3 separate regions of the Homo sapiens genome follow, and regions 1 and 3 are each linked to region 2. Evidence: fine-mapped expression QTL. A gene starts in region 2. Each other region holds a variant in brackets. All regions are shown on one strand. Distances are between the middles of the regions.

Region 1 (7,581 bases), 25 kb after region 2:
TGCCGGGAGTGTAGGGCGAGCTCCAAATCTAGGGGAGCTCTAGATCTTCCAGTCAGACCTGGAGCTGGACTGGTGCCCTCACATTCCCGCAGTGCCCCCAGGAGTGGTCGTCCCAGCGTCCCTGGCTCTGGCTCTGTCATCTGTGGGTGTCTTAGTGCCTTTAGATAGACTGGGGCCACCCCCAGGTAAGAAGGGCCAAGCCCCCTGAAACTGTACCCTGAGACCGCACCTCGGTGCAGGAGCTGACTCTGGCCCCGGCCCCAGCCCTGCCCCACCCTGAGCACCTCCACTGCCCTCCCTCAATAACAAAGGCCTGGAGGGCTGCCTCCCTACCCCCGTCCTCCACCGCTACGCAGGGTCCCCCCTGCAGCAGGGCACTTCGGCTGACTTAATGTCTCTCATGGATAAAATCGCTCTGAGTAGTTTTAAAGCTTTCAATTTTAGCCCTGGAAGCTTTTCCTTAAACAAAAATCTCACAAGAAAACTCAGTCTGCAAGAACGAAAGTGGAGCTGCTCTGATGGAGTGCAAGGTCAGTGGCTTCTCCCCAGACAGCCTCCCTTACCCTCCCCCGCCCCTGCCTCCTCTTTCCCTGGCAGCCCCTGAAGGGCTGTGTGGAGCTGAAGTACTTGTGGGAAGCGTGTTTGGACGGTGCTGACCAGGACCCAGTCACCTTTTCCTGTTTGTTTCCCTCACGGCTGGTTGGGCCAGGAAGTCCCGCCCTCTCAACCCCAGTGCAGCTGTCAATCAACGAGAGCACAAAGAATGTTCCCAATCCGCAGACAGAGTCCCTTCCACAGCTGGGATCTTCTCCACCTGGAGGACTACGTTCTTCGCCCCACCTTGCAAGTGGCTTGACATGAATTTGTTATCTGTGAGACAAATGTTCTTGGCCTGCCTAGGAGAGCTTTAAATAGACTCCGAGTTAAAAGAAAGCTTATCCATTATTTAGTCCAGCTCTTAGCTCGGGCAAGAATTCCTTACACATTCCCACCAAGAGGCAATCTAGATTCTCTCTGAATACTCCCCACAATGGGTGGCTCACTGTCTCACAAAGCAGGTGTCTCACTGTTAGGCAGCTCCTATTAAAATCCAAACCTGCTACCTTGCAGCCCTCATCCACTGGCTCTGCCTCTGGAGCTCAAAGAATAAGTCATGAAGTCGTGGAACTTATACTAAAAGGAATGCAGCTCACCCCAGGCTAGTCTTCTCCTCTCCTGTTCCATTCTCCTTAGAGGGCACTTGTGTAGATTATTATATTGGTGGTCAAGGAAACATGTCACTTAGTATTTGTGGACTGTGTATTCCCCTCTCTCATTGACTCTTGGATCATCCTCATGACTTGCTTTGGCCAATGGGATATTAGCAGGCATGAAGCCTTGGAAGCACTTGCAAATTTGGGCTTGCCCCCTTAGGAAGTTCCTCCTTGGAAGCCAGCTGCCATTGCTGAAGGAAGCTCAAGTTTGGCTACTGAATGGTGCAAGGCCATGTGGAGAGAGGCCCTGGAAAAGGGTAGTCCATTTTTTCCTTATTTTTTTATGTTTAATGTTTGTGGGTACATAGTAGGTGTGTATATCTATGGGGTACATGAGATGTTTTGATACCGGCATGCAATGTGGAATAATCACACCATGGAAAATGGGGTATGAGGAGAGGCCATTTTGGATGTTCCAATCACAGGCAAGCTCCCAGCTGAAGGCAACCACAGGAGTGACCTAAGCAATACACAAGGAACAGAAGGGCTGCGCTGCTAAGCTCAGCCAAACCACAGGATCTTGAGAAATAATAAATTGTTGTTTTAAGCAACTAAATTTTGGAATGGGTTGGTAAACAGTGATAGAGAATTGAAAACTACTGATAGAGTTTTTCTAGGAGCACATTTCTAGGATAATACGGCCAAAATTTTTCATCTCAGATCAGCCATTTACAAAGAGTATAGACAACCTGCCTAAGCCAAGAGATAGCAAACATCTTTACTGGAGATACCGGGAGCTCGGCCACTTAGAATTAAATCAGAAGGAGTCAGTCGGAGATGGGAAGGAGTTAGGAGCCTTTGGCTTGAGCAAGTCAGAGAGCCCCGTTTGAATGACAAATTATATGGAACAGCTTGGCTTTCCTCACAAAATAAAATTATGCTTCAGTTCAAATTTCTTGCCACTTATAAATTACTTTTTATTTTATTGCCCTACAGACCACGTCCAGATCCGTTTGGACGCTATGCTGTTTTTTATATTCCATTCTCCAAAGCTGTGAAGGTACAAATCATGGGCCATCCCAGGTGGTTTGGGGAAGAGATGTTTTTTCTTTCAAAAACAAGGTTTGGGTACATATTTGTGGTAATGACATAGAAATGAAAACATAGCAAGATCAATTGGAGTTTATAATAGCATTCTGCACAGGGAGAAATAGTGTGACATGCTCCTGGATGAGGCTGCCCCAGCCTTCTCCCAGCATTCACTCCATAAGCCTTTATTGAGCACCTACAGTCCCTGCCTTCCAGGCACTCATGTTCAAGGGAGGAGACTGACAGGTGGAGCAGCAGGAGCAATACAGTGTGATAAGGAGGAAGTCTGGGACAAGGAAAGTACCTACAAGAGGCCTGTCTCCTAAAAGAAGCTCTATCTAGGCTGAGAGCAAAAGGGTCAATAGAGCAAGTTGAACAAAGAGAAGGGACATTCATTGATTGCAGAGATTACTAGCTTCTACCCAATATCTATCTATCTCTTTTTCCTGATGATTAGAACATCATTTTATCCTGCTAGGCAATATTTCTAGCTAAAGGGCTACATTTCCCAGACTCCCTTGTAGCTAGCAATGAATAATGGGATATAAATACAAGTTTACAGGGTTTCTTGGAAGGAGTTCTGACTCAACTAGGAGACACAACCAAGTTCCTCTATTTTTCTGCCTGGAATGTGGACTTGATGGCTGGAGTGCCAGCAGCTATTTTGTGTCATAAAGCAAACTTGAGATAGAAACCAACTATAAAGTATGGTAGAGCAGAAAGTTAAGAAGAGCTTGCATCCTGACAACTGTGAAGCTGCTATATCAGCCCTGGAGAGCCACCCTTCTGGCTTCTTTCACATGCCAAATAAATAAATGTCAGATTTAAACTACTTGTTTGTTTTGTTGTTGTTGTAATTTGCAGCTGAACCTAATCCTAACTGATATACCTGCATGTGCCAAGGCCCAGAGGTAAGAGAGCACATGACATATTCCTCAGTCTGCAAATGGTTCCGAGTGGATGGAGCTCAATAAACTGTGTGACAGAGGAGGGGGTGGTGAGTGGGACAAGAAAGGGAAGCAGAGGTGAGCCTGGAGTTCTTGGGCAATGGGGCATAGAGGGAAATCATAATTGCTAGCATTTATGAAGGGCTTTAAACAGCAGATTCTTCTCTCCCTATCCTCCACATCTGGAGAAAGGACAGCCTCCTGTTCCCCAGAGACCTAGGACTAGGGAACAAAATGTCCTAAGTTAAAGGGTGTGTCTCAAAATTGGGGACATGGCCACAGACAACTGTCCTTGGATATGAGAACTGCCTCATGACTTCGCTTAAACTAAATTAAACCTTCTCTGGGTCCCATTTTCCAGCGTGATATCAAAGTCAGCTTCCCTCTCCCAAGGGCTGTGCAAGATTAGAGAGCTGAACTTGTAGAAAACCAGGAAAGGCCTCCAGCCTTCCATCATGGAATTGTTTCTAAGTTGCCTGTTGCCAAGACTGGGATGGTCCACGGGCAGCCCAGATAACCGTGAGAATAGGGATCCCCTTGAGGAGCCCAGGTCCACAGCTCGCTGAGAGTAGCCTCCTCCTGCATCCGCAGGCCACCCCAGCAGAGGTCTGGCGGCTCCCAGATTCCACAAGGAAACATGGCTTGTTCCCTGCCACCCTTGGAAACTCCCAAACCTAACCCTTCACCTTTGCTGGGGAAACCCCTCTTTGCCCCCCTTTTGGGTGGGAGCCTTGTCATTTTCCCCAGTCGAAAGGAATCCAGCTCAATCCTCCTGGGTAAGCCTGAAACACAGAAGAGATTTGCCTCCCACCTTTCCACACTTTCTCCCTGCCCTGGGGAAAGGGATAATGTAAGGAACTTTAAAAAATACTCGTCATCCAACCATCCAACCATCACTGGCAGCAGAGCCCCTGAAAATCATATAGCCTGGAGCAGCTTGTCACAGAAGATAGAGAGGAAACAGTCAAAGACAAATTTGATTTGATAGAGTCGTAAAATGGTCTCAGGAGCCAGGGTGAAGAGGCTCCCGCTGGCCAGAGATGTGAAAATGTGAGTACCAATAAGGACAGTAACAGCAGTGTATTGAAATAGGTCAAATATATATAAATCCATGAGTCTATAATGATACTTTTTTTAAAAGAACCTAACTGGCTATCAGTTGAGGCTATCAATTCATACTAATGAATTAATTCATTGTTTTGATAACTAACATATATAGAAGTAAAAGATCAAGCAAGAGATAAAGACAAAAAGAAACTACTCTGGCCCATGTAAA[T/C]ATATCTCAAGATGTTAAAAAAAAATTAGAAGAGTTCAGCCTGTAATGACTGTAGCAGGAAAAGCAGTGCTTTTTAATGATGCACAAGGGAATGAGAAGTCCTTGCTCTGAGCCTTGGTGGTCCACGGGAGGGTCTACGTGGGCTTGAGCCAGCAGGGTTTCCTAGGACACGGTTCTCCAGAGAAAATGCCCTGGTGAAAACCACAGGCAGAAAAGAATGGGATGAGCCTGGGATGGAATAGCAACAAGAATATCCCAGAAATCATTTTTTTTTTTTTTTGAGACAGAGTCTAGCTCTGTCACCCAGGCTGGAGTGCAGTGGCATGATCTCAGCTCACTGCAACCTCCGCCACCCAGGTCCAAGCAATTCTCCTGCCTCAGCCTCCCAAGTAGCTGGGATTATAGACATGAACCATCACGCCCAGCTAATTTTTGTATTTTTAGTAGAAATAGTGTTTCACCATGTTGGCCAGGCTGGTCTCAAACCCCTGACATCAGGTGATCTACCTGCCTTGGCCTCCCAAAGTGCTGGGATGACAGATGTGAGCCACCGTGCCTGGCCCCACAAAGCATTTGGGCACTTTCCCAGCATTCAGTGAACTATGTGACACAGTGTTCCGTGATGAAAACAAGATGCCACCCCCATGGGAAGGATGAGAACTGAGTCAAGTGATTGAGTTTGGCAGTTTGTAGACTTCAAATCTCCTTCAAAGGACTCAGTTCAGGGCAGTTGTGGGTTGTCCACCAAATCGCAGTCTTAAGGAGTGAAAGGTGGAGCTAGACTGCTGGGAGGGAGAGCCAGGACAGAAAGGTGGGAGAAGGAAAGTTAGCTTGAGGAGGAAGCAGAGGCAAAGAGCTTGTTATGGAAATGATAAGGAAAAGGCCTAGTAGATGAGTCCCAGAAGGCAAGAGAAAGAGGCATGGCTGAGCTGGGCTGGGTGCAGGGAGCACCTGGAGAACAGACCCAGAGATCTCCGCTCCATAATGTGGGGGCAAGCATGCCACATAGCAGCCTGGTCTGCCACTTTCTCTCCCTACTCCCATCTCTATTCAGGGATGGACTAGGGCAGGGTTCAAAGGCCCAGGAGAAAGTCAAGGAGGCTCCCAGGACCTTGCTCCAGAGAAACCAAGAGGCCATCAGGCAGAGCGACGGGGTCTGGGTCACCAGGAACCAGGTGAAGACAAGTAAGGAGGATGGGGAGGAGATATGGAGGAGGATGAGGAGGGAGATGAGGAGGAAGGGGGTGGAGAGACAGAGGAGGAGAGAGGGAAGTGAAGAGGGGGTATGAAGAGAAGGTGGTAGGAGCTGGCAGACACAGAAACGCAGTGTATTTAAGACCTGCTATTTTTGTTTTCCTTTTTTCTTTCCCTTTCTTTTTTTTTTTTTTTTTTTTTTGAGACAGGGTCTCGCTCTGTTGCCCAGGCTGCAGTGTGGTGGCACGATCTCGGCTCACTGCAACCTCCTCCTCCCGGGTTCAAGCGATTCTCCTGCCTCAACCTCCCAAGTACCTGGGACTACAGGTGCATGCCACCACACCCAGCTAATTTTTGTATTTTTAGTAGAGACAGGGTTTCACCATGTTGGCCAGGCTGCTCTCGAACTCCTGACTTCAGGTGATCTGCCCCCTTCAGCCTCCCAAAGTGCTAGGATTACAGGCGTGAGCCACCACACCTGGCCAGGACCTGCTAACATTGAGTGTGGCCCTTTCATTGTGCAGATGAGGAAACTGAGACCCAGAAGAGCAAGTTCTTGGTCATAAAGCCCAGTGATATCGCAGAGGGGCAGGAGAGTGGTGAGAAACACACAAAAATTGTCTTCACACAACTCCCTCAAACCCCCACTCCCAGAAGAAAGAGGCGGAATTATTCCCAGTCCACCCAGGTCAAGTGACTTTGGATGGTGGCACCTGTGGGTGGGCTGAGGAGTCCAGGGTGTGTGGGTGCAGCTCAGTCCTTCAGGGTTAGTCTGTCCTGCCCCGCTTTCCCAAGCTCTCAACTCTGCAGGAAGTTCATGGCTCCACTGCTGCTCGGGGTGTGTGAATCGGGAGAGAAAAGACTTGGAAACCCATGTACACCTGCCCGATGCAGAAAGGACGAGGGTGCCCTTCTTCTACACACAGGTGGGACTTGGGCCTGGCCTCAGGAGGCACAGCTGCCCCTACCCAGGCCTTGGCCACAGTTGCCATGGAAACCGCACTGTAAAGGACTGAATGACCTCAGATTTTGCGTTTCATCTCCCAACATAGGATTTTAGAATGCAGAGAGCAGTTACTGGTCTTCTCTTATTTCAATGCCAGCTGAGCAGCATAGAGGTCCCTGGAGGCCCTTTGAGCTCCTCCTAGCTCACAGGAACAAGTGTGTGGGTCATCTCCCTGAGCCAGCCTCCGCTATGAGCCTTTGCCTTGACCCCTTGATCTATTCTTATTCACTTGGCAACAGTGATTAAGCCACAGGAGGTTGCAGGTGCTGGATCAGGCAACAGGGAAAGGAAGATGAATAGGAGACAGATCCTGACCCAAAGAAGGATGCAGTCGAGTTGGGGAAACAAATACATAAATAAATCATTATAAACCCATGTGGCAAGTACATGGGGCACCCAACGCACAGCAATTTGCTCACTAAAGTAGGTGACAGAGGGGGCAACATTGGGGCGAAGAGCTTGAAGAAAATGGTGACGGTGTGGACGGTTATTAAGGGGAATCATTCAGAGGACCAGGTCAAGTGGTTGCTGAGTGACACCAAATGCCCCGCTGAGGCTGGGCCCCAGGCCAATCTACAGGCCACTTGATTTTTCTCCAGCAGGGCTCAGCTATGAAGGCATATTGTGGGACTGTGGTCAGAAAGTGAAGCATTGGAAGTGAAGATTTCAGAAGAGGAGCTGCTCTGGGAACAAACACAGGGTCCAGCATGTGCCCTGGGAATGGACAGCAGACCAGGAGCCAAGGCAGGAGTCACAGGAATTACAGAGGCACAGGGACTCCCCCTGTGGTAGGACAGCGGTTCCTGCAGACACTGCTGTCCTGGGACTGAAGTGGTTACGGCAGGAGTGGAAAGAAGGTAAGCCACGTTCCAGCCT
Region 2 (7,581 bases):
AAAAGTATAATTATACCCCTGACCACTAGACAAACTCTCTGGCCATGTTGGGGCATAACAATGAACTTTCATTACAGGTATGAATAATCGTGTATATACTTATAAACACCCTAATTGTTGGAACATGAAGGTACCAACGGTGGTCTTTATTAGTAGAGTTTCACTGAATAGGACTAGAGGTGACTCTCTTTACTAATGTCCACTTGTAAAAATTGTTTTTCATTGTTTCAGTGAGGAGTTGGAGTGATCATAAATCACTTCTCCTTTCCAGCCACTCCCTAGGAGACAGCACATCCCACTCATGATATGAGTGTTATCCCGAGAGCACTGTTGCTTGGGTGGAGAAGGCACTGGGGAATTTTAAGGATGGGGCTTCTCCACAGCTGGTCCTGCAGACTGGATGGACCTGAGACACCTACATCAAAGGGAAAAAATAAAAATAAAAAACGAGCCTTCATTCAGCAAAAACTGCCCTCTCATCCAATCTGCAATCCAGGAGAGGACTTGCAGGGAAGGAAGTTTCCAGAAAAAAAGAAAAGATCTTTGGGCCAGTGGTCTGGGCAGTTTCCAGAATGGGAGTTTAGTGAGGATGGCAAGTGCTGAGGACACGTGATAGATTTTCTCAGCAAGTTCTAACCTAACACTACTCCCTCAGGGAGGCTTTCTCTGAGCCCCCTTCCTTCGCCCCCAGGAAGAATTTCTGCTACAACACTCTGTTCCTGCTGCCATCCTAGCACTTATCAAATTCAGACAAAGTTGGCCTCAATTTTCCTCAGCAGTCTATGACATCCTGACTGATTTATTCATCATCACAACCCCAGTCAATGCCTGGCATGTGGTAGGTGCCTGTGTTGGTCAAATGAATGAGTGAATTGAAAGAAGCTGCATTTCATCAAAGAGCAGAATCAGCCATGAATATTCAGTTGTCCCGGGAGCTTCAGATAAGCCAGGAGGCCTTGGAGAAGTGGATCTGGGCCAAGTGGCAGATTTCCAAGAGCTGGGGCCATTTAAACCACTCCTGGGGAAGGGGGGCAATAAAACCACCTGCAAGATTGGTCTGAGCTGCTTTGTTGCCTGGGACTCCACTGCAGGTGGAGAGGGGAGCAGAGGGATCAAAAGCACTCAAAGAGCCTTTGCTTCTGAGTGGTCCAGAGGGCAGTGCTGCCCTGGCTGCAGCGACCCCCACCCAGAGATGGGACCAGTGCTCAGCTCTGCAGAAGAGCAAGATGGACCCACCATCCCCAGAGAGCTTCCTATGCACCAGACGCTGGGCTTTATGTAATCACGTTTCATCCTCTCAGCAACGCCAAGAGACAGGTGTGCCTGACTTACAGATGAGAACCACCACCAAGGATCAGGAATCCCTCATTCCGTGTGGAGAGGAGCAGGAGCCTGTGCACCCAGTAAACTGTACAATAGCAACCAAAGCAAAATTAAAAAAAAAAAAGCCAGGATTATGTCACTGAAAATTCAGAAATCTGTGCACCTACAGCTCACCTGTTTTATTACTTTTGTGGTTTGCATATCTTCCCTTTATTTTCTCCTGGTTTCTTATAATGGTTTGTTTTGTTTGTTTGTTTATTTGTTTGTTTCACAAAAATCCCATAGGATTCTGATCTCACAAAGGGAAAAGCTGGATCCCCAGGGCAAGGAGCCAGGGGTCAGCGGAATGGACGGTGCCCTGCAGCCGATGCTGTCAATGCAGCAGGGCTAAGGCTGGGAAAGGCACCTAGTGAAGGGAGACCAGGGAGGGTACACACAGGTACATGCGTGGGCAGCTGCTGTCTCCTGGGGCTGGTCTCCCACAAGGTGGTTTCCTCGTGCAGCAGTGACTTGGTGCAGCCCCTCTCACCTGGCACCAATGCATTTGTTTCCTCAAAAGACCATAGGGTGGCGTTTACCTCACCACTTAAAAAAAAAAAAAAAGGTGGATCAAGATGCATGCTGGCTCAGGAGGATCTTCATATCCGCCAGAGGGAGGGGCAGGCAGTCTCTTTTTACTCCAGCAGGTGAGAATTTCTGATAAAACTAGATTAACACCAGCTGGCCTCCTTGCAGTGTCTAAATGTGCAAAGAGAGCTGATCTGATGACACCAGCCAGGGGGACAGGCTGCTGGAGGCACCCCAGAAGAGAGAAGCCCAACTAAAGGCCACCTAACTTACTGCTCAGATAGGCTGCTCTGGCCGCAGCAGCCCCTTAGGGTAGAAAGACAAGTAAGCTCGGAGGGGAAAGTGAACGGGTCCTGCGTGGGTGGCTGTGGCCTTGGCTGTCACCGCAGCAGAGGCCCCTGCTAAGCAGGCGAAGAGCGAGGAGACCGTGAGAAAGGCCAAAGTCAAACTGAAAACCCCTTCCAGCTGGCCTCTGCTCTTGGGAACTTGGAACCATACGTTGGCAACAGGCTCGCCGACAGGGGCACGCTTTCTCCCGGAGAGGGCACTGGGGCGCCTGGTTCTTCGGGCGGGCACGGGAGAGGGGGGCACCTCCCAGCACGCAGGAGCAGCCAGTGCCAAGCTGGAGGAGGGGAGGGGCGTGCAGGCAGAGACCTGGGGGTGGAGTTAAGGGAGGGAGGGTCAGGAAAACTTCTCATTCCCTGCCTCCATTCACCCTCCTGCACCATCTCTGTAAGGGGCCTCTGCTTTAAAACGTGGGACATAGATGCCACCAGAACCCCTGCCGGCTGCCGGAGTCCTGCACAGAATTACATCGGCGCACTCTCTACTTCTCAGGAACAGAAGGGATCCGAGGGAGCTATGGGTTCATCTCTGGCCACATGCATCCAAACTAATAAAATCATCCCCCATCCCCCTGGCGCCCTGCGGGGTGCTGGCGGAAGTGCAGGTACCCCTGAATGAGGCGGAGGAGACTCTGGCTAGAGTTCTCGTCCCCACGCGGTCCGCACTCCGCGAACCAAAGGGGGCTGCAGGTATATCTAGCCCGGCTCGTCCTCTTTCCCCGGCTCAGCTGACTTCGACGCCCGGGAGTTTGATCCTCGCCGCCGAGGCCCTAGAGCTCATTCTGATCCGACCCCATTCCTCTCGGGGAAGTGGGCTCGCGGACGGATGCACACGACGGAGAGAAGGAGCAGAAATCGGGGCGCCGGGACGGGAGCCCTACTCCGAAGCCGGCAGAGCCATTCCGGCCGCCGCTGCGGGCTCCAACATTGGCCGCAAAGTTTCCGGCTCTTTGGGGCCCCGCCTGCGGGTCGGAGACCCCAGCGCAGCCTCTCCCCTCTGGGGTGCACACTCCACGCGCTTCTGCCACCTGCCCGGGGACGCCAGGAGCGGGCGGTGGCGCGTGGTCGCAGCACTTGGAGCGCGCGGCCCCGCCAGGAGGTCTCCGGCCGCGCCCTTCTCTCCCCCCACGCCCTCCCGCGGCGGGGTGGGGGTCGCAAGGGTCGCGGCAGCCGTGTCTTACCCAGTCCCGGCACGAAAGTGTTGAGGAAGAGGCAGATGACGGCCACGGGGAAGGGCATGTAGGGGATGGCGGCGCGCAGGGGGCCCTTCTTCTCGCGGACCTGCACCACCACCCCGCTGGACGAGGACGCCCCCCGGGGGTCCGCCGCCGCCACCGCCGCCGCCGCCGCCGCCGTCTCGGCGTCTTTGTGCGAGGGCTCCATGGCCGGGCGCGCTCTCAGGCAGCCGGGCAGCACGGCCGGAGCTGGCGCCCAGCGTACGGGAGCAGGAGACTGTCGGCTGCGGGCTCCGGGCTCCGCGCCGAGCTCAGGCGGCCGCCGTGCTCCGTGCGCCGCGCGGCTCGCGGAGACTCCCGCCCTCCGGCGTCCCCACACGCCCGGCGGAGGGGCGGGGAGGGCGGCGCGACACCCGGTGACAGCGCTCTGACGCCCCTCCTCGCCAGGCCCCTTCCCCGCCCCCTCCCCCCAACCAAAACCACCGCTCACAAGGAATGGAAAATCAGGGCGGAGGGAAAGCAGTGGAAGAGGACCGCAAAGGGAGCTGTTTGCCCAGGTGCTGGAAGGGGTGGACACACCTCGCCCTCCCAGACAGGTGAACTAGGAACCTTGACCACGAAGCCCTGCGAACTGGGAGTGTGTGCTTGGCTGACACCGTCGGGAAAGCCTCGAGGCTGAGTCCCCTGATCTAGAGCAAGCCTTTGGCCAGGGACATGGGGACAAGGGACGGACCGCGCGGCGCCTGACACCTAGTCGGCCTTCAGTGCATTGTGATTTAAATGATTTTGTTTGGGGCGAGCGCAGTGGCTCCCGTCTGTATTCCCCACTTTGGGAGGCCAAGGTGGGAGAATTACTTGTGCCCAGGAGTTCGAAACCAGCCTGGGCAACGTAGCGAGACCCCCCCCCCCCCGCCCCAGCTCTATTTTGTAAAAAAAAAAAAAAAAAAAAAAAATCACTTAAAAAATATATAGGAGTGAATTTGTTTCAAGTGTCAGAGAAAAAGCAATCCAGAGATCGGATCGATAATAGAGGAAACAGATTTGCAAACACCAGGCCAGGTCTCCGCAAGACTAGTTAAAAGATGGGACACTTCCCTACACACACGCACCAAAAGCAGAAAGAAATGCGCCTGTTGCAGGCTTGTTGGGAAGCGTTCACCATCCCCTGAACTATACTGGAGGAAACCTGAGCCTTCTGTGAGCCCGACGTGGTGGTTAAAGAGCCAGTGAGGACACAGCGCCGTCTGGCGTTAATAATGGGGCAGTTGGTAGAAGCAACAGCCGGCAGCTTGAGGTCCTGTTTGAATTCGATTTTCTGAATAAGGCTGCTTCGCCTCCGCACCTGGAAAAAGTAAACGGATGAAAGTTACCGCCTCTAACGTTAGGGAGGGGTTAAAGGCTTCGGAATTATCCAGACAGTCAGCAAATCGTCTGAATAATTGGAAGGGTGCAATAGCCTCCCTTCAGGAATAATAGTGATTATTATTATAAACAACCCAGGGTCTCAGAAGAGGCTAAAAGAACATGGGTTATTGTATACTTATACTTATTGTATAAGTCTCTGAATAAAATAATTTTAAAAGCAAATGGCCAGGGGTTAGTGATGATACTGGTGGACACACACATGCGTGTGTACACATACACAGATACACACACACACGAGTCATTAGCTTAGGTTTGGCAGTCAGAAGAACAGGGTTAAAAATTTTAGTCTTTGTTCAGCCACTAAAACCTGTATGGCTTAGAAGAACTCGCTTAGCCTTTTCTGGCCTGGAGTTACTGTGTTGGTTAAAATCATAGCAAGCTTCCATTTAATACACAATTATTGAAGGCCTACTAAGACTTAGATTCCAGGGAGAGAGAAATGAGTAAAATCCAGCCTCTGCCTTCAAGAATCTAAGAAATGAGCTGAGAGATACTGACAACTACAAAGATAGACTTACAGAAACAGTGAGGAATGTTGCAGCTGTGATGTGCTGGAGGTGCTGCGACAACATGGACCTATCTGTGAAGCCAGCTAGCGTGGGGGAGGCCTCGGGGAGGTGTCCCAAAGAAGGCGATACTCAAAGGGACTTGAGCAATGACTACAGTTAACTATTTGCAGATTTGTTTTATTTTCAACAAACACTTATTTACCCAAGCACTCTCTGCCAGGCATCATTCTAAAAACCCTTTACACATTTTAACTCTTTTAATCCTTACCATAACTCTACAAAGTAAGGATTATTTATTACCCCATTTTACAGATGGGGCAATTGAAGCACAGAGAAGTTAAACAGGCTGCACAAAGTCCCCCACTAATCAGTGGTAGAGCTGGCAGCTGAATGCAGGCAATCTGGCTCCAGAATCAATTCTATATAACCAGTATTTTATTCAGAGACCTAGAAAATAACCCACATTCTGTGAATATTCTTTTGCAGAGCACTTGAACTGTCTTAGGGCCAGTCAATCATTCCTCCTGGAGAAAAAGGATTTCAGGGACGTCAGTGGATTTGCATCCCCCAGTTTTCCAGATGATTTGCTGAATATCTTGGATGTCAGAAAGACATCCAGGCAGAGCAACAAAATATACAAAGGCATGGGAGCCCAGGGAAGTAGGGATGATTCCAGGAATTGCAGTGTGGCTGGCACTAGGGCTTGTGTGGGCAGAGACAGGAGATGGATCTGGTGGGGTGGACAGGCATCTAGTACTGAATGGCAAAGGAATTTGGACTTCATCTCGGTGGTGGTGATGCAGAATCACTGGAACATTTTAAGCAGGGGTGTGGCATAAGTGTTCCAGTTACTATCACTGTGTCACAAATTACCCCCAAATTTAGCAGCTTAACACAACCATTTTTTTCTGATCACAAATTCTGTGGTCAGGAGCTTGGACAGAGCACACCAAGATAATTCTTCTTTGCTCCTTGTATCTGGAGCCTCAGCTCGGGAGACTGAAATGGCTGATAGCTGGAACAGCTGGGGCTAGAGGATCCACTTCTGAGAAGATTCTCAGGAATCTCAGCCTGCCTGGACTGGGGTAACTTGAAAGCTGGGTCAACTAGGATGGGTCAGCAAAGCGCCTACACATGGCCTCCCCACGTGACTTGGACTTTTCACACTATGACAGCTGGCTTCTGAGAGGGAATTTCCTGAGAGGAGGCCCCCAGAGAATGAACATTGCAGGACCAGTGGAAGCTGTGTGGACTTGGACTTTTCTGCCCTAACTTTGGAAGTCACACAGTGTCACTTCTGCAGGGCTTTACTGGTCGATGCAGTCACAAGCCTGCCCAGATTTCATGGGGGACACCCCGCCTCTCTATGGAGGGGTGTCAAAGACTTGGGCCTAGGCTTTAAAACCACCACCATTATGAGATATATTTGTTCACAGTGTGGAAGATGGGCTGGAGGGGATAAAATCAGGTCACATGCTTATATAGAGGCTGAGGGGGAGGAGGACTCTTCCTGACTGAAAAGGACTGAGAATGGGGTAGGGACAGTTCCCAAATGAAAACTGGGTATTAATAGCAGACAAGGAGGAAATGAGTTTGAAGGGTCTGAACACATCCGAGAGGTAGCGGGGACTCATTGATAAATGGCCAGCATAGATAATTGTCTTGATAAAAGTTGGATATTGAGTCAAATCGAGAATCAAGGAAGCAATTGGGGCTGCAGATTTGGGAGCCATCAGCATACAAATGGTAGTTAGAGCCCTGTATGCAGATGTGGAATTTAAAAAGTCACAGAGGCTGGGCGCAGTGGCTCATGCCCGTAATCCCAACACTGGGACGCTGAGGCAAGAGGATCACTTGAGCCCAGGAGTTCAAGACCAGCCTGGGCAACATGGCAAAACTCCATCTGTACGAAAAATACAAAAATTAGCTGGGCGTGGTGGTGCACACTTCTAGTCCCAGCTACTCAGGAGGCTGAGGTGGGAGGATCACCTGAGCATGGGGAGGTCGAGGCTGCAGTGAGCCGTGTCGCACCACTGCACTTCAGCCTAGGCAACAGAGTGAGACTCTGTCTCAAAAAAAAAAAAAAAGTTACAGAATTTCTGTAATTAAGCAGAAAGGAAAAAGGAGGGAAACGAGGTTTACATGGAGAAACACTACTAACAGTGTTTCATGGAAGCCAAAACAGGAAGATTTTAAGGAGGATGCAGTCAGCAGTGTCAAATTCACTGAAGGGTAAGG
Region 3 (7,581 bases), 54 kb before region 2:
TTGTGGGTGTTTTGTATTTTAAAGAGCCACGCTGGTGCAGAAAGACCAGGGCCCTATCAGCTTCCCCTCCTCAAGAACCTCGGGCCTTCGGAAGGCCTTTGACCCGGTCCTGGGGTTTCAGACCCACTTTGTGCTGCCTTACACTTGGTGTTGGGATCTGTGCCTGGCTTTTCTTTTTGAGAGCCGGACCCCTTTGCCCTCCAGGGGAAAAGTTAACCATGTGGCTTTTTTTCTTTCTGCAGTTCCTTTCTGTAGCATCCTCCTTACTGCTTCCGAGCCCTGGGCATCCTGCATGAGGCGGAGTTCATCTCACACCTCTGAGATGCCTGTGCCAGCATGGCTGGAGCCCCTGGCTGGCAGAGCGGGCAACTTGGTCCTGCACATTAGGATGGGGAAGCTCCTAATACCAGCTGTCTCTCTGCCGCCATCCCCCAACACCCTCAGGAAGGGGCACCTTTCTGGGCCTGCCTAAAGGAGGGAGCATGGGTGTGAGGGCTGCCCAGGCAGGTGGGAGTACGGAGCCTTGTGGGGCAGGGTGGAGGCGTCCAGGACCTTCCTAGGAGGTTTTGCCCAACTCCCCCTAAGTGATGACAGGTCTCAGGAGGGGGCCGCCCCCACATATGGGAGGGAGAAGCTTATTTTCCCAGCTTGGGGTGGGGGCGGCTGCTGAGGGGATGGAGAAGAGATGGTAATTTATGTTGCATGTTTAGTGACACAATCCAGACACAGGTGGGATTGTATCACTAAACATGTGACATAATCACCCTATTACTCCTGAGGGGTGAGGACCCCTCCACAGGACCTGCTCTGGGCTGCATGCGATTCTGCTCCTTCTTCTGGGAGTGCTGTAGTGAGTGTGTGGACGGCACAGGCTGTGGGGGCGGCCCAACCTGGCCACTTGCCTGTCCTGCCACTTAGGAGCTGAGTGTTTGGGGGCACATGACTTACTCTCTCGGAGCTTCTCCTCTGACATCTGAAACTCACAAAGGCATCTCCCCTCCCAGGAGCTAAAATGCCCTGCACTGTGCCTGGGTGAGGCTGCTCTTGGGGCTGGATGTGTGGGTCTGGGGCAGCTGAGGGTGGGAACCATGCTGCCTGCCCCTTCCTTACCATGGGAAGGTCAGCGGCGTGGCAGGCTGGGGTAGGCTCTGGCAGCAGAGCCATCAGACTCCTGCCGCTCCCATGGGGACCTGGCCTTCTCAGCCTGAGATCCTTGGTTCTGAAACTGACTCAGAGCTCAACATCCAAATCAACAGTCTCCGCCGTCCACAGGACACACCCAGGCCACCCACAGCTCACTCTGGCTCTAGGGTCCCACTCTGACCCAAGGGAATGACCACCCTGATCCCAGTGTCACAGTTTGGTACTGGGAGCATCTCATTGCCTCTGACTTTCTCTGCAAGCCTGTAATTCCTGCCCTAAACACCCACAGCCAGGGAATGTCCTATTGAATTCCGACCGACAAAAGGCCCCAACCTGGAATGTGCCCTGCAGCCTCTGAACCAACAGCCTTGTCTGCACTATGCAGGCAAAGCCCAGCTTTGTCACCAAAGGGCTGTGTGTCAACCATGCACTTGCCTGCACGAGAACCCTAATTTTCAGCTGGCTGGTGTTTGAGAAGTTAACTCTGGCCCTGGTCTGAGTGGCCAGCTGGAACTATTTGGAGTAAATCAGCCACTGTCCCTTATCTACTGAAGATGATCATGCTGAGACCACGGTCTAATTTAGAGGGGCGGGGGCGCTATTTTGAACCGGTCCCGCCCACATGGCAACCCTCACAGCCTCATTCAGGAGACAGGCAGGGGCCTCTTGGCTTCTCCCACACATCAGTTACCCGGAAAGGGGCCTCCTCCTGAGGCTGATGTTTTCCCAGGTTTAGAGACGCAGCCCTCGGGGGAGAGGAGGATCTGGGGGCGCAGTGGCCCTCCACACACACAAACACACAAACCCCTGTATTAAACCATCCCACACGGGACCCAGGGTGACACCTGCCACTCAAGAAAGTCCCACCTGCATCTGGATTGTGTCACTAAACATGCGACATAAATTGCTATCTCTTCTTCACCCCCTCAGCAGCCGCCCCCAGCCCAAGCGGGGAAAATAAGCTTCCGCCTCCCATTTGTGGGGGCGGCCCCCTCCTGAGACCTGTCATCACTCAGGGGGTGTCGGGCAAACTCTGGGGGCTGTGTGGGGTGAAGGGCTGTGGGCTGGTGGGCATGGGAGGGGGCGGCTTCCTGCAGCTGAAGCTATTTTATCTGAGTAGAGGGGCAGCTCCACTCTGACGCAGCTTCCTCGAGAGCAGCCAGCACCAGCCTGGAGGATGCCTGCTGCACACAGCAGAAGGTTCTAGCTTTTTAGAGAAAACCAAATCTGTTCCCACACCTTGAAGATACAGAGGCTTCCAAACAGGAGAGAAGAAGGCAAAGGCCTGGGTTGGGGTCTGTAAGAAGAGAGGACAGGACGCGACAAAGACACTGCCAGGTGTTCAAAAACGGCAGCCCAGCCCCAGGCAGCAATGGAAGACGGACAGTAGCTAAGGGATCCATGATAAGGGGTGGGCAGCAGGGCCCGCTTCTCAGGCAGGACTGTGATTAGAAAGCCCGGTGGATGGGGTAGGTGGGCTGAAACCCCCAGAACGGTGGCCACTACTTCCCAAGCACTTTCATCCTGCAAAATCCCTTCTCCTGCCCTCATGGAGTTCTGACAGTCTCTGATAGACAAACAAGCCCTTCAGAGAGGGACATGCCCAATGGCACTGTGTCAAGTGGAGTCAGAAGCTTGACTTTGGGCCAGCCCCATCTGTTAGCATTTCCTATGTTAGAATGAAAATGAAAGGAAAGGAAACAGACATGTAAATGTCCATCCTCTTAGTATCTAATTTCTCTTAATTTCAGATTGATACTTGATCCACAGTATCCTGGACAACTTCTGCTAGATTCTCCCCACCCCTAGCCCCCATTAGGGATCTAGCCCTGTCCCAATCACTTACAGAGGGGCTCCTTAAAGAGGCCCATGGTCTTTTGGCAACTGAAGGAGTCCTTGTGTAATGCCGACAATTTCACCCTCTAACACATCTGTTTGCAAGCAGGATTTTCAGATCAAGGTCCACAACCCCATACAATTGTTCTTGCAATTCTGAAACCCTAAAAGCTCTCAAATGGTAAGTTTTTCCCTAAGTTACTTAGTGGCAAAATTAGACTGAACTGAGGTGAGGCTATTTACAGTTTGTATAGCTCCCAGTTAATGGGACTAGTCACATGTTTCTCTGCAGAAATATTCACGTGCCTGATGGTAGGCGAGATGTTCCACACTCTGCCGGGAAGTTAGAAAGTGTACGATAAATGGATCGC[A/G]TTGTCTTTCTCAAATCTAAAATTTCTCAATTCGGAGACACATCTGGCCCCAATGACTTCAGAAAAAGGAATGTGGGCCAGAAATGCTGTTAAGTATTGGGTGAAAGCCTGCTAGTCTGCCCACTCCTGCTTCAGTCTAATAACTTTGTGTATAAACATCTGGCAGTTTCACCCCAGGGAAGGAGCTACTCCTCTCCTTCCCAGGAAAACACAGGTCACGACACACCCAGCCCTCAGATTTCAGCTGCGAGGAGGCGGGGGGTGCGGTCAGGGAGGCAGGCCCAGGAGACGCCTGTGGGACTGGTCTTCTCCCCGAGGCCTCAGGCCAGCTGTGGGCACAGTGGGCCTTTCCACGCTAGGGTGGAGCCTGGCCATCCTCACCCACACCCTGGTGCTGCCCCCAGGAGACCACACAGTAAACACTCGGGGCACCAGATTTTGAGGCAGGTGGGGTCCCACAGGACGGGTCTACCACAGTCCTGTCCCCTTGGTGAGCCCCTGCTCACCCAGACAGGGCCCGGTGTGGCCCGGCCCAGCAGACGTGGCGTGCCTTTGCGGTGGGCAGTGGGTACAGCAAGGCCAGTTGGAGCCTGCCGGAGCATCCCAGCCTCTCTGTGGGCGTTCTCATCTCCACCCCACTCTCTGATGCTCTGGTGCCTGCGCCCACAGTGCTTTCCAGAGCAGGAGGGGCTGGCAGCCCTCACAACCTGCTGAGAAAAGCAGATGCGTTTTCAAAATAAATAATATTTTTAAAAATACCCCCTTTCCACCCCCAGTCCAGAAAATGGCAGAAAAGAACATGTAAAGGTCCTTGTGCCCAAAGCTGCCTGGTGCAGCCCTCACAGGGCCCCCCTGGATCTCCCCAGCGGCTCCCGTGGGCTCACAGCTGCTGTGGGATGCCCTGCTCCTTGTAGCCTGTGAGGAAGAAGCAAAGGAGAGATGGTTAGACACCTGCTTACTTCAGGATTTCTCCAGGAGGTGCCCCTAGCCCAGAATGCACACAGGAGGCATTGTTTATACTAAGGTGTAAATGACTGCTACCATCAGAGCACAACTTTTCCCAAGGGCTTTGACTTTCTAATGGGAAACAAAAGAATGAATCAGGAAATGTGGAGTACTGGGTCTACTGGGAATGTATGACGGGCGGGCATTTGGGGTGGGAGCTAAAAGGCTATCGACATGCTCCTGAACCCACATCTGGAAGCCGCTTACAGACTGGTCTGGTGTGCTTTCCCAGTGCAGAGCCTTGGGAGCAGGTGCCAGGCAGGCTTCCCCGAAGGTTGGGCATCTGGTATGGGTGGATAGAAGGAGGAAGAAAGGAGGAAGATGGCATACAGAGGGGAGCAGCCATCCCTGTGTGCGTCCAACCTGCTGGACGGTTACGGCAGGAAAGGGCGCCTGAAGGCTAAACCTTTAAAACATTGTTGATCATGAGTCCTTTGGGAAAAAGTGAGCTCTGTGGATAGTAAGGAATTGTTACTGCTTTATTTAGGTGTGAAAGGGTATTGTGTTTGTTTTCTTAAGAAGATACCCTTTGGGAGGCCGAGGCGGGCAGATCACTATGTCAGGAGATTGAGACCATCCTGGCTAACACAGTGAAATCCCGTCTTACTAAGAATACAAAAAATTAACTGGGCGTGGAGGCATGTGCCTGTAGTCCCAGCTACTCGGGAGGCTGAGGCAGGAGAATCGCTTGAACCCAGGAGGCGGAGGTTGCAGTGAGCCGAGATTGCGCCACTGCACTCCAGCCTGGGAGGCACAGCAAGACTCTGTCTCAAAAGAAGAAGAAGAAAAAAAAAACGATACCTACTGAAATATTCCCAGCTGCTATTACATGAGCAGAATTTGCCGAGCGGTTATTCCTATTAGCCAGTGAACTTAGTCTGAAGAGGAGCTTTGGTGTATTGAGCTGCTTTTTTCTCTTCATTTAGCAGAGTATTTCTCAATTTTGGGTGCTAATAACCCATGCTGGGGTAGGGGAGATGTGGCGAATGACAGAGGAAAGGAGGCTGGCCATGAATTGATAGCAGTTGAGGCTGGTGTGGGCATTAGGGCCTCATTTTACTAGGGGCTCTACTTTTGTCTATGTTTAAGCATTTTCCAAACCAAAAGTTCAAGCTAAACATAAAAGCCCATTGACCCACTGGGAGAGTGGGTGGGGTGTTTGTGTGCAGGAGTGGGGGTCTCGGGGGAGGGGAGGGCCCCAAGCAGCAGCACGAGGCCCGCACGTCCATCCGCAGACTCACCTTGGGAAACTGCAGCAGCACAGAGTGGGAGGCAGCAGGAGGAAGAGGAGAGAGAGAAGAAGAGAAAACACAGCCTGAAAACAGAGCCACAGGGAACGCTTGGCACAGGAAACAAAGCAGATCCATGGTGAGGCCTGGGAGATGGGACAGGGGCCATGCCAGTGGCTTCTCAGACGCCATCCCCAGGCAGGGAGTGCTCAGTACTCATGGTGACAGCCACAGTGGCCAGTGGTCTGCCCACCAGGCGTGTGGGTGTGGCTAGGGGCACAGCGAGGGGCTCTCACACTGCCAGGGAGCTTGGTCCACTGCCTCCCCAGCCCTCCATATCCTGGCCATGCCCACACTGCTGCCTTCATTCTTTATTCTTGTCTTCTTTTGACACAGAATCTCACTCTGTTGCCCAGCTAGAGTATAGTGGTGTGATCATGTCTCACTGCAGCCTCAAACTCCTGGTCTCAAGTGATCCTCCTGCCTCAGTCTCCCAACATGCTGAGATACAGGCATGAGCCACAGCACCTAGCCTTTTTTTTTTCATCCTCAGCTCATGCCTTCCTCCAGATAAATTCCAGATGGACATGAGGAGTGGCAGCTCCTGGACAGCTAGAGCTTTGACTACAGCAATCTAAAGATGCTGATGTGCCCCATCCTGGCCCCACACTGGCTCTGTCTGAGCTATGTGCTTAGCCATTTCTATGGAGAGGAGCCACATATATAAAAATACTTTGGGGAAGACCCAGGCCAGAGGGTGGCAAACAGATTTTATCTTGCAGACCTCTTGGATCAATTAGTAGTGACTGCCTGAAGCCCTGTGCTGAGAACATGTGAGACTGGTCACCAGAAAGTGTCATGATTGATTAGCAATGTCTGCCATGGGCATGGCAGTAGAAAGAGCCCACCATAGAGCTACCAAGTATTTATTGACCCATGACCAAGACAGGGTGTTGTTGTTTGTTATTTGTTGTTATTCATATAAATCAAGCAACATGCTTGCAACTTCCTGATGTTAACTCCCACTTTCATCTAGATTTCTCTGACTCCCCTCTTAGGAGTTTTTCATGATAGTGTGTTTGCTGATGACACCCCAGGCAATGCCATGCGAAAAGCCAAAGTGTACTGTTACAACTGAAAAGTTTCCTCTGTTTTTATAGCAAGGGGCTGGACTGACACCAGAAAGAAGAGTCCCTTATCCAACTGTCTTCTAGGATAGAAAAGTCCATTGTGATAATTCCCTTCAAAGGAGTCACTCTCAGACACACAAGTTCCATGGTTGCTGGGAGTAATCCCACCTATAGCACCATCTCATGAGTAGCAACTGTTCACCCTTTGGGGGTGGGATTAGTTGTGGGAAAAAAATGCAAAGGCTTCCCTTGCTGAGTTGGGTGAAAGAGTCTGGCAGTCAGGCAGTGGGCAAGAATGAGGTGTGACTGGTTTTTGTATTCAGCCCTCAAGTCTATCCCCCTGATATGGTTTGGCTGTGTCCCCACCCAAATCTCATCTTGAATTGTAACTCCCACAATTCCTATGTGTTGTGGGAGGAACCTGGTGGGAGATGATTGAATTATGGGGATGGGTGTTTCCTGCAGTGTTCTTGTGATAGTGAATGAGTCTCACGAGATCTGATGGTTTTAAAAATGGGAGTTTCCCGGCACAAACTCTCTTTGCCTGCTGCCATCCACAAAAGAAGTGACTTGCTCCTCCTTGCCTTTCGCCATGATTGTGAGGCATCCCCAGCCATGTAGAACTGTAAGTGCATTAAGCCTCTTTTTCTTCCCAGTCTTGGATATGTCTTTATCAGCAGTGTGAAAATGAACTAATACACCCCCCAAAAGCATTCTCAAAAGTTTGATGCAAAGACAGCATCCCTGGAAACAGTGTGCAGACAACCAAGGGGCTGACGCTGACCCCCAGTGAAGGCTGCATGGCAAAGGTAGGGGCTGCAGCTTCTAGCACTTGCTTATCCTGCAGACCAGTTAGTGCCCCACACC

Direction of the effects. Positions count from the first base shown, and alleles are read on the strand shown. Sizes are in standard deviations (SD) of each study's normalised expression. Not every link is listed here.
As copies of A replace G in region 3, the expression in tibial nerve of the gene that starts at base 3,758 in region 2 goes up (large effect, 0.85 SD a copy in GTEx).

The links. PIP is the estimated chance that this variant, and not a neighbour inherited with it, causes the effect.
Region 1: its variant is fine-mapped to the expression of STUM in tibial nerve (GTEx, PIP 0.95).
Region 3: its variant is fine-mapped to the expression of STUM in tibial nerve (GTEx, PIP 0.98).

Annotation. Positions count from the first base shown.
Region 1 is chr1:226,520,094-226,527,674 of GRCh38, reverse strand. It overlaps LOC105373115 (a long non-coding RNA gene), which reads left to right and starts at 6,875. Exons shown (of 3, transcript XR_949221.2): 1 at 6,875-7,562. RefSeq lists enhancers at 6,027-6,719, 6,720-7,414. The variant T/C (reference allele first, on the strand shown) is at 4,506.
Region 2 is chr1:226,544,941-226,552,521 of GRCh38, reverse strand. It overlaps STUM (stum, mechanosensory transduction mediator homolog), which reads right to left and starts at 3,758. Exons shown (of 4, transcript NM_001003665.4): 1 at 3,416-3,758. The coding sequence starts at 3,617. RefSeq lists a silencer at 4,480-4,774.
Region 3 is chr1:226,598,690-226,606,270 of GRCh38, reverse strand. It overlaps STUM (stum, mechanosensory transduction mediator homolog), which reads right to left. Exons shown (of 4, transcript NM_001003665.4): 3 at 5,597-5,605; 4 at 1-4,265. The coding sequence ends at 4,231. Among named protein-coding and RNA genes, the nearest start is that of STUM, 54 kb to the right of the region's middle. RefSeq lists enhancers at 664-1,343, 1,344-2,023, 3,233-3,768, 3,769-4,305. The variant A/G (reference allele first, on the strand shown) is at 3,351.